4 linked regions of the Homo sapiens genome follow. The protein of the gene in region 2 interacts with the protein of the main gene of each other region in a pairwise test. Each region holds a gene or a part of one and is shown on either strand. Other genes may lie near its edges.

Region 1 (3,500 bases), on a different chromosome or scaffold from region 2:
CCCAATAAGATCTCGGGAGCTGGGCGAGTGGGCTCAAGCATGCGCATTAAGAGGCAACATGGCGGAATTTACCTGGTGCATGACGTTCCTCTAGGAATGCTAGACTGGACAGGGAAGAACGCCTCAAGTGAGCACGCCTACAACTCCAGTAAACACCCTGCGCACGCTCCCCCACAACCCCCGTGTGCTAGCACGCCAATGCACATGCGGACAGCCCACCCCAAGGGAAGAATCAGAGAAGAAGGAACGCAAGACCCCGGAAGTATGGCAGCATATAAAACCCCAGGTCAAAAGGCCAAATCTCACACTTCATCTCTCAAGTTGCCCGCCTAACCACCTTCAAAGTGTACTTGACGTCCTTTCATTCCTGCTCTGAAGTTTTTAATAAACTTTCACTGCTGCTCTAAAACTTGCCTCAGTCTCTCCTTTTGCCTTATGTCCTAGGAGGCAAGAAGTGAGGTTGCCGCAGACCTGTCTGGATTCACCGCTGGTTAACACTGTGACCACTCTAAACATCAGAGCTCTGCTCCTGTTTATGGAGAGGTTACCCTAAATTAGCTTTAAATTCCTTCCCTAAGAAATGGAGGGTAACCTCTAAATTCCCTCCCTAGTTACCTTTGTGATTGCCTCAGACCTGCCAATACTGAAGAGGACGGCGCTCTGCTTTCTTACCAATATGATGGGGCTCCCAGGGTCCTCTGTCAGCGTGCTCTCTTTGAGGTTTCATTTCAGGTACCGGCCTTACCTTCATATCTGCTGGAAGAATCGCACGCCTTCTGCGGGGTGGCTACTCGGAGGAATATCTGCTGCCTCCAGGAATGCCTCCGGGTCTTCACAGGAGTCCCACCAGAATCACCAAGATGGTTTGCTTTGGATTCAAAGTCCCTAAAATTATAAGATGATTGATTTATGACTAGTGGGGAGGAATTCACGGGATTTTGTTAGCTTAACATTTTTTTAAACAAATCACTAAATTATCAACTATCTTTGTATAAACAAATAATCAATCACAGAAGTTATATCAAGCTCACAGTGGGTCATCATTCCTAAAGAACTGCTTTCTTACAGAATTCTTTTCATGAAAAGAGAAAGATTACATGCCCTTAAGTGATTTCGATTGTAACAGAGATTAAGAAACATGTTCCACATATCATAGTTCCAATTGGGCCTCTCTTGGTGCCACTTTGATAAAGAGAAACTGCCTAAAGGGGGAAAGGGGGTGATGCCAAGGGGCCCCATTCTGCCCTCTTCTGTGCATGGGAATATCTGCTCAGCACAGGCCCATGTCTCCAAGGATTCCCACAAAAAATGAAAAAACTTGCAATTTAATTACACAGAACCAGCAAGGCAATAACTATGCAGTCACTTGATGATGATAATTGTTTTAACGTGTGTATTTTTTAAACTACAAAATACAGTTATCAATATATAAACACAATCATAAATGTTTTCTCCTATTCACAGGACAACCTGAGAAGGCCCTTCCAATTTATACCCAAGTTATGTACCTGTAAGTAAGCAATCCCCTCAACTTACAGATTAGACGTCCTGAACAGATCAGACATCCTGATTTGAAACAGACATATGCTCACTAACCAGAAACACTGGTCTCAGAGACTTGGCAAAGACTTTTCTTAAGATAACACTTAAACTAATCCTCGTCAAAACTAGAGAACAGGTTGGTTGCACATTTTTAAAAATGGCATTCAGTAAGAAAAAAGTATAAGAAAGAAGATACAACAGATTTAGCTGAAATGATTTTTTAAATGGCAAAATAGTAATTAAAACACCCTTGTATATCTAATGATATTCAACACTTAGTAACACCCAGGCTTGATATATCTAAATTAAGCCCTACCTTTTTGTGTTCATAAAATCAGAGGTGTTATTTTCATCTACAGGAGCCAGAAATTTTAGAAAATTTGGCACAGAGGAAGAAGAATGAAGTTTTTTCCGCAGGGCATTACGGTAGGAGATGCTAAGAGTTTGGTTGAAAAAAGAGTTTAGGATAAAGAAACATAAAAACACAAAGTATAAAATATAAGCTTCAAAATAAAAGAAACATTTTTGTTCTAATGCTAAGAAAAGAAAACTAGGTAAGAAATTAAAAGTAGTTCACGAATGAGATTTAATTTTCATTTTCACCAATAAAATTTGATTTTAAATGAATGGGATCAATAATTTTTTAAAAAAGAAAATCCATCCATTTTCCAAATAACTCTTCCTTTCAAACTGGGAAAAATAATTCCCCTAAATCAATCAGGAAGTTTCTGATATGGCACAAATTGCAGTGTACATGATCAAACACAGATGTTATCCTGTGTGTGTGTGTGTGTGTGTGTGTGTGTGTGTGTGCGCGCGCGCGCGCGCGTGTGTGTGTATATACGCATGCATGTAAGTGTCCACTAGGGCAAGGAAATGTGAAAATAAGTATAAAAAAACAATTTGCAGCAGGGTGCAGTGGCTCACACCTGTAATCCCAGCACTTTGGGAGACTGAGGCAGGCGGATCACTTGAGGTTAGGAGTTCAAGAACAACCTGGTCAACATGGTGAAACCCCATCTCTACAAAAAAAAATAAAAATATTAGCCGGGCATGGTGGCGTGTGCCTGTAGTCCCAGCTACTCGGGAGGCTGAGGCAGGAGAACTGCTTGAACCCACAAGGCAGAAGCTGCAGTGAGCCGAGATCACGCCACTGCACTCCAGCCTGGGGAACAGAGTGAGACCCTGTCTCAAAAAAAAAAAAAACAAACACAAACACAAACCAATCTGCCATTAAGATCTGTTTTCATAATAATCTTAAGAAAAGTCATCAATAGTAAAATTAACTTGGTTCAAATGACAGCTGAAAATAAGACAAAATATAAACAAAGACACACACGCGCGCGCACACACACACACACACACACACACACAGTGGCTCTGCTTCCTGCATGGACATTCCCCCCATTCAGCACATCCTCATCAGTGTGAACTCCCCAGGAAAACAGACAACACCAAACTTGCCACGTGAGTGTGCTCACCTCTTTGGCACAGCATTCCCACTTTGTTCTCCACTGGAATTATGTTTTAGGTACTTAAAAAAGTTTGGCGAGGAGGCGGAGGGGTTAAGACGAGGTGGAGGAGCAGGAGCTGAAGACTGACCTGGGCGGTGCTTAGACTCACCCACAGGTGAAGGATCCACACTAAACAGCAATCAGAGAAAGCACGGGGGGGTTAGCAGGAGAGGGGGCGCCGACAGGGACACGGAGCAAACAGGTGGAAGGAGCACACCGCTTTTGTCTCGTTGTTCCAGTAACACTATCAGAGTGGAGGACTTCTTCCACTCCTTTTCCTCATCTCTGCTCGCTCTCTGGCAAAGGTAGTTTTCAGTGAAAAACAGAGTATATTGACGGCCGTTCTTGACCATTTCCCACGTGTTTATGCTCCCAACAATACTTTTTTTTTTTAATAGGTCTCACTCTATCACCCAGGCTGGAGTGCGGTAGCACGATCACAGC
Region 2 (3,500 bases):
TTATTCTTGAACTTTGATATAAACATGAAATAGGAAAATCACTGGGGGACTATAATATAAAGTACTCAAATATAAGAAAAGTAATTGCTATGAGTTCAACCCCCCACCTAAGCCAATTTTTAGTGTTACAGTCTTCTTGCCAATCTCCTAAATATTAAGATCTATACGGTCAAGCATAATTTCTCAGGATTTTCTATATAATGAAAAACTGATTTGAAAAATTAGTTTAAACCAGTTAACACTAAACTTAGTTATATAAACTAATTTAAACTAATTTTTCAAATCAGTTTTTTCAAAGATGTATGTATTTAATAATAGAAATTTGCAGGTAAACATTATTTGTAGTCAAAGTTGAGTATCATGCAAATGTTATTTTACATGAAAATAAGCATATGAACATACTTTATTTTCCTAGGCTGGATTCTGCTTTTATTTCTTTAACTTTAATAAACATGGTTTCATCATAAACAATAAGGTTAAATTTGTGCCTATCTGAATTTTCATAAAGTCTGAATTCTTAACAATTCTAATGTAGCATGTAAGAAAATGAGTTTTTACTGAATTTAAAATATCAAACAAAAAGTGACAAAACCTTTTGGAGGATGGAGTTTGTGGCCGGTTTTCTCACACCACCCAACTGGGTGGATATCCAGAGCGTCTGCATTCACCCAGAAGTCATAGCAATCAGAATACCCATCAAAGTGAAGCTTTATCCGGTATCCACAAACCTGAAACAGGTAAAATAGGTTGAATTATTTTTTTTAACTCAGAATATTCATATATATATATATATACACAAAAATAAACATGGACACCAGGCATGATATAGTCTTAATGTTAATCAAACCACCCACATTAACAGTAATAAAACAACTAAACAAATAACCAGAATCTAAAGACAAAAGCTATTAAAGTGGGAAGAGCTGAGCTGTGGCATTCTGGCAACATTCTCAGTTACATTACAACCACACGGATAGGGGGCAAAGCATAATATCCCACAATTGCAGGTCCTTTCTCCACTCCCTATGTTGTACCAAGATGTGTCCCCAGGGTAAGCTGGAAGGCACACCAGCACAGCACACTCAGCTCTAGCATGGCCCCAGAGTGGACAGTCTGCCCTGCACTGAAGGCTGCAGACCACAGCTGGTGCATATGCACAGAAGTCAAGCTTTTTTTCTCCACCAAAGCTGGGTTGGAAGAAAGAAAGAAAAGCGTCTCTCCTAGTTTATTACTTGGATGAGACAGGCTCCTAAGAATGCTAGTAAGAATGTACTCTGTATAACACATGCCATACATATGCCTACAGGGCCCCACTTAGAGACATTCTGATTTAGAAGGTCATATAGGCTTACGAGACCTGAGTTGGATCATACCCTGCCCTGGATTCTTAGAGAGAGGGTTCAGCCCCTGAGACTTCTTCCCACTAACACAAGAAGATGTGTTCAAGTAGAAACACGTATCACGCCAGACCTCTACCCGCTCCAGGAGTGTCTGTCCTGCAGAACCCTGAATGATGAACTTAGACCAGAGTGCAGAGCCAGGGCAATTAATCCTCAAATAGTGAGGTAGCTGTACAGTTACTGTCATGGAAAGTTCTCTAAAACATATAGTTAAAATTCAAGTGGTAGAACACATAACACAGAATGAGTTAAGTTTATGAGAAAATTAGACATGTGGGGGTCCACATGTATTTATGGGTATATGATTATGTATACATATGTGTATTATGTGTATATACATAAGTATATGCATTTATATACATACATTAATATACACACATATGCATACATATGTAAACACATAGTAAAAAGAAGTCCGGAGGTATATTTGCCAAAATGTTAATAATGATTTCTTCTAGGAAGTGGTAGTGAAAAGGAAGGGGCAAAATGGGAATGATGGACTTTTCATATTTTCTTTTATGTATCAGCATTTTTTCAATTAGAATGTATTGATATACCACATACATCAAATTTACAACTAAGCTGACTCCCCCCAGAGAGAACAGAGTCTCTCCATACAGCTGAGACTGGAATCCCTGGGAAATACAATCTCTCAGGTAAAGCAGGAGCTACCCCCACTCCCTACAGCCACCCCATGCAAAGAAGGCTGCTTCTCTCCTCTCTCTCACAGTCAGCTATATCTGGCCGATCCTAAGAGCTCAGCCCTATAGTAATTTACAGCCTCTAGTTCCTTGTGGGCACACCGTTCTGAGCTTCTGCTCCCTTGAGCCAAGCTCTCTCTGTTCTCCCCATAGTCTCTATCTCAGGCTCACCGGAAAGCTATGCTTTGAGAAACAATCTCCTACATCCTCACCCTCCTTGCCCACAGTCATACCTAGCTCGTCCTTCTCAAGCCTTTCCCCAAGGGTGCTCATGTTCCCAACTCTACCTCCCATAGACACAGGACGGGTTGCTGCCTCCCACCACACCATGGATCCTAGGCCAGTTCTCCCCTGCCGAGGCTCGAGCCATATGGCTGAAGCAACTCTCCTCCTCTTCTTCCCCCATGCTAACCACCCAAACACTTAGCCCTGGCTTATTCTCTTCCTTTCCATCTGAGTACTTTCGTCATCCATATGGATGACTTATCCAATACCCTGGCATTTTGACTCCCTTCCTCTCTACTTCAAGCCCTCACTCCCATGAATCTAGTCCCCAACAAGAACTGCTCTGCTTCTTAGTATTAAATTTAAAAATCCAACCCTGGGACACATACTCCTATTCCAGTCTGCAAACCCAGTTACCCCCAGATGCCTCTTCCTCAATCTCAACAGAAACTCTAGTCTCACACTGATCCTTTTACTTCCTCCCTAGCAGCTCTCCTCACCCCAAGCCTTCCTTTCCTAGCAATCATTTAAAAAACATTTTCTTGCCAACATTTTAAAATTTCTGCCCTGATATCCTTTGCAAAATATTTGCCTGGTGACATTCTATCATTTCAGGTATCCATCTTGTCTCCACCTAACCAAGTCTAGTAAATGGTGATGGGAAGGAAAAAATGACATACCGCCAGTCTTCATTATTCACATACTGTATTCCACGTTTGTGAAGTCATCTACTTGCTACAATTTATTTGTAACCCCAAAATAATACTCGCAGTGTTCGTGGACATGCACAGACTGACAACACTTTTGAGTCACTCAACATGCATGTTCCCAGCTGAAGTCAATCAAGAAGGAGCTTTACCTTCCTGTTTCAGTTCTCGTACTGGGAATAAGTGTCTTTTGTGTGGTCCATTTAGTGCCACATATTCTACATTTTTGTGCTTTTCTTGGGTGATGTTACTGTTTAAAATGGCCCCTGACATAGTGCTGAGGTGTTGTTTAGTGTCCCTAAGTGCCAAAAGGTTGTGATGTTGCCTTACAGAGAAGATACTTGTGCTAGATAAGCTTCATCAGGCAGGAGTGATAGTGCTCTTACTTGTGAGTTCAATTTTTAATGAATGAACGATATACATTAAATGAGGTGTCTTTAAACAGAAACACACATAAAACAAGGTTA
Region 3 (3,500 bases), on a different chromosome or scaffold from region 2:
GAAAGGAGGCACATACGCTTTGCAGCATCCCTTACAGGAAGGCTAGAGTTCATTCACGTAGACATCTCTCTTCCCCACTAGACTGGAGTCCCATGACAGCAAGGATCCTGTGCGAATCAACTCCACACAGCTGCAGCTACACAGGGGTTTGGCACATGCAGGGTGGCCAAGGAGCCTGTGGTGCACTCTCCCTCCATCTCCCAGCCATGTGGCCTTTGCCAGCTCTCCCCCTCTCCTGAGGGGCACAAATGAAAGTGACTTTGTGGTGTTCTAAGGGGAAATGCTCCATGGCTCTCAACAAGGGTGAGATAATACTCTTAGCTTTATTTCTGATACTGCTCTTTGACATCTGTTGGCTATTTTTCAAACTTCAGCACACCACATCAGTATCTTCAAGGGAAACACTCATGGTGACGTAACAAACCCCTTCCTTCACTGTTGCATCTTCACCAATGGCTCAGAGCCTAGGTAATGTTTTTCTCAATGCATTATCCAGCTTCAACACTGCTATGGGACTTTGGGCAAATCATCTAAGCTCTGTTATGTCTCGGTTTTCTCATCTCTAAAGTGAAGATAACAGAACTTTATACTTCATAGGGTTGAGTGTTTAGCCCACCAAGTGATCAATAAAGGTTGGCTGTCTTTAGGTTAATGTCCCATAATTATCCCAATTTTGGTAAGGAAGAATTCTCCTAAGAAATCTTTTCAAAGGCATATTTAAGATGTAATAAATCATGTTACTGACTTGCAAACATATTTATCCTTTCAAAGAAGGCTTCCCTTAGTCAGTTCCAGTTTTAATGTGACATTTTTTTTTCATAAAGACCAAAGATGAAATTCTTTGGGATTCACAGCATAAAAATGGTAAAGGGATAATCCCTTTGTATTGTGTATAATACCAAATGCTATACATTCAAATGTAAAATTCTAAGTTCCTGACATACTAATCCATGAATCTTAATTGTTACAATTAATACACATAGCATAAGACACTTTCTAAAACTTTCATGGTCTCATGCTCTTTAAAAGGTTTAAATGAAAGAGTGCCGCAGACATGCAGGCTACTCCATCTTCTGGACCCTTGCTTTTCCCTCATTATACATTCAAGTATTTAAGAAGATGCAGATGGAATCTCTTTCTTACCTCTCCATCAGCCACGGCAGAATAATTCACTTGGGCAACGGTGACCGTGGTTGGCAATTCTGAAGCATCAGCCAATGTGGCTACTGTTGCCCCCGTACCAACCTAAAGAAAAATATGGAAAGTGGTTAAGTGTCAGTGGATGGATCCTTCCACCTCTTTACTCAGAAGCTGAGACTCATTTAATCCCAAATTCAGCACAGATAACAAAGAATATGCCTTATGATGTGAAATCTAAAATCATAGCTCACTAAAATCATAGTTCAGAGACTATCACGAGTTTCAGAATTTTACTTCAACCAAATAAGTCCATATGAGAAAAGCTATCACATCGCCACATCCATGCCCAGTGTTGGTCAACCAACTTTCTATTCTCACCTCAATCTGAACTTTAGAGGTTCCCAATCAACAAATTGTGTTTTACCTCAGAAGAGGTCATTCAGAAGGAATATTCCCTGATCACTGAGAGTGAAACTGTAAAACAGAAGTCATTTTAAGGCCAGACATGGTGGCCCACATCTGTAATCCCAGCATTTTAGGAGGCCGAGGCAGGAGGATCACTTGAGCTCAGGAGTTTGAGACCAGCCTGGGCAACATAGCAAGACCTCATCTCTACTTAAAAAAAAAAAAAAAATTCAGCCAGGCCTGGTGGCATACACCTGTAGTCCCAGCTACTCGGGAGGCTGAGGAGGGAGAATCACTTGAGCCCGGGAGGTTGAGGCTGCAGTGAGCTGTGATGACAGAGAGAGATCTTGTCTCAAAAAAAAAAAGAGCCCTTTAAAAGTGCTTTGTTTTGGAAATGTCCAGGAAGCTACTCATAGCTCTGTATTTAGCAAATGCAAAGAATTTAAACTATTCTTCAGAAATCAATTTCAGGTAGGAAGATCTTGGGGAGCTATATAAAGTTCATACAAGAGTTCGCACAAAGGAAACTTTCCCTAGTCTGAGGTGAGGTGCCCACTGATCCATCTCAGAAGCCACAGTCTGGTAGCCCTCAGGTTTACTCACCTGGATAAGTGAGACAGTGCCATCAGGGTTACTAAAAGTCTGGACTACAGTCTGTGATGGTACAAGATGAGCTATACTATGTGTGGCTGTGGCCTGTGTTTGCGTTTGCTGATCTTCAAAGGCATACAAAAGGTCTTCCCGCCCATGCTGTTTATAACAGTTTTTAACTATGGTCCGTAGTGCCTGGGTCCATGAAACCTGTCACCAAATGACCGGAAAAGCACATTAAGCCACAAAGAACTTTGGTTATTTAGTCCCAATATGCAATAAGCAGCTACTTCTTTATCAAATCAAACCAAACCAAACCTCTTATTAGACTCTCCTAGGATTACCTCCCACAGACTGGTTCTGGTAGAAAGAAGCTGTGTACGAAGTATCAAAGAGGGCTTCTCATTGGTTTCTTCTTGATCAAAGTCTAGTTTACACCCTATTCCAACCTGAGGCCAAACTCTTAAACTTCTTGCAAAGAAAGATTATTCTGATCAAGAATGGCATATTAAGATTCTCAGTAAACTTCCAAGCTAAATGAAAAATAAATACGTGGCCAGGCATGGTGGCTCACGCCTGTAATCCCAGCACTTTGGGAGGCTGAGGAGGGCGGATGGCCTGAGGTCGGGAGTTCGAGACCAGCCTGACCAGCATGGAGAAACCCCATCTCTACTGAAAATACAAAATTAGCTGGGCATGGTGGTGCATGCCTGTAATCCCAACTACTCGGGAGGCTGAGACAGAAGAATTGCTTGAACCCGGGAGGCAGAGGTTGCGGCGAGCCGAGGTCACGTCATTGCACTCCAGCCTGGGCAACAAGAGTGAGACTCTGTCTCAAAAAAAAAAAAAAAAAAGAAAGAAAAGAAAGAAAAAGAAAAATAAATACGCAAAAAAAGTAAGGAATGGTAGGTAGTTTAGTCTTTCTTGTAAAAGTTTTGTTATTAGCAGACTCAGCTGGCAGACTTCATATCCCTCTAATTCCATATTTACATTTTCAACAATGATTTTTAGTAACCAGAAATAAAAGCATTTCTAAGTGTTCAAAGTGATTAATACTTTTACTTCAAGTTTCTTTGACTTTCCCAAGCACTTCATAAAATTAAAACTGCTCCAAAAGGCAACCCCGAAGACACATTTTAAATTCATCAACTCAACCCAGTCTTCTCTTTATAGTATAGTGATGGAGCGACAAATGGAAAAGGCTATAAATCAAAGAATATCAGTCTTTGGAGGGACAGGCTTAACTATTACACAAAGACTTTCTAGCACAAGATGTAGAAATGACAAAAATTGAGGTGGTTAATTTAGGATGGAAAAGCAACCAGGCAACTCAGTCAGAGGAACTCTCACCCTCTGCTTTTGCT
Region 4 (2,255 bases), on a different chromosome or scaffold from region 2:
TATAGGTATAAATTAAGATGTCATTTCCCTAGAGAGGCTAAGAAATAAATACATTCAACAAATATTTGATGAATTAAAGGAATGAGATGAAGATATCTGGAGAAAACGACTCATTCGATCCACCATTCATTCTGCACACATTGTGTCAGGCAAGATGCTCAGTATCAGACACAGAATATAGGAAAGTACAAGTAACCAGCTGGGTGTGGTCACTCATGCCTATAATCCCAGCACTTTGGAAGGCCAAGGCTGGGGAGGACTGCTTGAGGCCAGGAGTTTGAGACCAGTCTGGACAACACAGCAAGACCCTCATTCTCTACAAAAAATATTTTTAAAAAAGTTTTTAAAAGAAAGTACAAGAAGGTACACATACCCTTTCACAAGTCACAGTGATATCTTACTAAAATGCCTGGAGCCACAAGAAGCCTGTTTTCCCTTCAAATGAAAAGTAGGTTAAAACTGGATTCACCAAATCTCACAGAAGAAAAAAGTACACACACTGAACTTTTTTAGTTTTTTATTTTGATTCCTATGGCTGGACAAGGTATCTACATTCTAGAACATCTTCTTAATCCCTAAACAAGTGGAAATCTACTACTTATATATAAAAAGACAAGTAGAAAAGGTCATGATTGTCTAACAGGGAACATGAATCCCCAAATAAATTATCTTACAAAAATATCATACTTGCTTTTCTACTTTTTTACTATACTGGTAAAAATGAAATGAAAAAAATAATTCACATTAAAATAAAATCTGTAGGGTGGCATAGAAGACAATTATTTTTACATATTAAAGTCCTTCAAATAAATATTTTACACACAAATTTAAGTAAGTTTTTAAAAAAAATAAGTATTTACGCTATATTTTTTTGCTCTGCTAAAAAGAGACCACTTATTAAACTGACATTAAACTGGACTGCAGCTCATTCTCTGCAAAGAGTAAAATGCATGTCACAGGCAGATTGGATACACACGTGCATATTACATACATATGAAATGGCTAACACTGCTGTGCATACTACTGCCATAACTAGTTTTACCCTGTAAAAATACTGTAGCCTATACTGTATCAAATTGCAATGAAAGAACAAAAGGTACTACTTGCCTATTTTAGACACTTGGTCAAGCATTTAAAAAAATACAAAAATTGGTCCACTGCAGTGGCTCACACCTGTAATCCTAGCACTTTGGAAGGCTGAGGTGGGTGGAACACCTGAGGTCAGGAGTTCAAGACCAGCCTGGCCAACATGGTGAAACCCTGTCTCTACTAAAAATACAAAAATTAGCCAGGTGTGGTGGCCGACGCCTGTAATCCCAGCTACTCAGGAGCCTGAGGCAGGAGGATCGCTTGAACGTGGGAGGCAGAGGTTGCAGTGAACTGAGATCACACCACTGCACTCCAGCCTGAGTGACAAGAGTGAGACTCCGTCTCAACAAAAAAAGAAAAAGTTATAATGTTTTGGGGACTTAAAGATTACTGAAGAGGGGATAAAAGTCAACACTGCTTACAAATACCTGAACATGGAGAGCACAGTCAACACATTCATGTGGACAGCACATGAACGGATGTATTAATACATTACACAGCTTCTTCTATCTGACCTATTCCTCTTGTTCTAAAGAGTTACATGGACTTGGATCCTTTAAGATGATTTTAAAAATAATATTACATTAAGTTTTCCTGGTCTAATAACCAACTTTGAGAAGTACAGTGGAAGGGTATAGAACTTCCTATATCTTCTATACTTTTAATGCCAATTTGATTTTTATTGTGATGTGATATTTAACAGTATGCTAAAAATAAAATTGACTGAATTGTATGATTTTGTCCACAACATTGAAGTCTCTTTTTGCTAAAATATTACAAAATGAATCCAGTAAACACTTTCCAATGGCCTAAGTTAGAGATGAATTCAACTTTTTTTTTAAAGCAATTACAACTACGCTGGGCTGAGGACAGCTACGTTAGACCCTGAAAACCAAAGCCAAGCACCCAAACATCTAAAACACTAACACTTTCCATCCAGGATAGAAAAATGAGCATCCAAAGTAAAGAGAACCACAAGACTGATCAAGTAACCAGTCAAAAACCACTTCTCTATTATTTGAACTTATAGTTACTCGAAGCTTGAAGTGTCCACCTTCATTATTACTGGTGGTTCCTAGAGTCACGGCTTCAATGTCAAACGTGACAGTGGACCCAGAAGTAACTGCGGGTAACTGATTTGTCATTTCTTTTCCATTGACAAAAAC

Evidence for each region. The genes of interacting proteins can lie anywhere in the genome.
Region 1: the proteins of L3MBTL3 (region 2) and TBC1D1 interact in binary tests that used the Homo sapiens proteins (3 or more experiments, as listed by UniProt).
Region 3: the proteins of L3MBTL3 (region 2) and NRF1 interact in binary tests that used the Homo sapiens proteins (3 or more experiments, as listed by UniProt).
Region 4: the proteins of L3MBTL3 (region 2) and CRLF3 interact in binary tests that used the Homo sapiens proteins (3 or more experiments, as listed by UniProt).

What each region holds. Positions count from the first base shown.
Region 1 is NC_000004.12:38,051,584-38,055,083, reverse strand, and holds part of TBC1D1 (TBC1 domain family member 1), read right to left. Parts: intron 3,186-3,500; coding exon 3,024-3,185; intron 1,979-3,023; coding exon 1,859-1,978; intron 886-1,858; coding exon 746-885; intron 410-745; exon of another isoform or gene 334-409; coding exon of another isoform or gene 95-333; intron 1-94. Other genes in the region: uncharacterized protein LOC124900692, read left to right, coding at 95-333. UniProt on the Homo sapiens protein: May act as a GTPase-activating protein for Rab family protein(s). May play a role in the cell cycle and differentiation of various tissues.
Region 2 is NC_000006.12:130,063,581-130,067,080, reverse strand, and holds part of L3MBTL3 (lethal(3)malignant brain tumor-like protein 3), read right to left. Parts: intron 729-3,500; coding exon 593-728; intron 1-592. UniProt on the Homo sapiens protein: Is a negative regulator of Notch target genes expression, required for RBPJ-mediated transcriptional repression. It recruits KDM1A to Notch-responsive elements and promotes KDM1A-mediated H3K4me demethylation.
Region 3 is NC_000007.14:129,709,220-129,712,719, reverse strand, and holds part of NRF1 (nuclear respiratory factor 1), read right to left. Parts: coding exon 3,487-3,500; intron 2,347-3,486; coding exon 2,149-2,346; intron 1,246-2,148; coding exon 1,144-1,245; intron 1-1,143. UniProt on the Homo sapiens protein: Transcription factor that activates the expression of the EIF2S1 (EIF2-alpha) gene. Links the transcriptional modulation of key metabolic genes to cellular growth and development.
Region 4 is NC_000017.11:30,782,184-30,784,438, forward strand, and holds the end of CRLF3 (cytokine receptor-like factor 3), read right to left. Parts: coding exon 2,004-2,255; 3' UTR 501-2,003; downstream 1-500. UniProt on the Homo sapiens protein: May play a role in the negative regulation of cell cycle progression.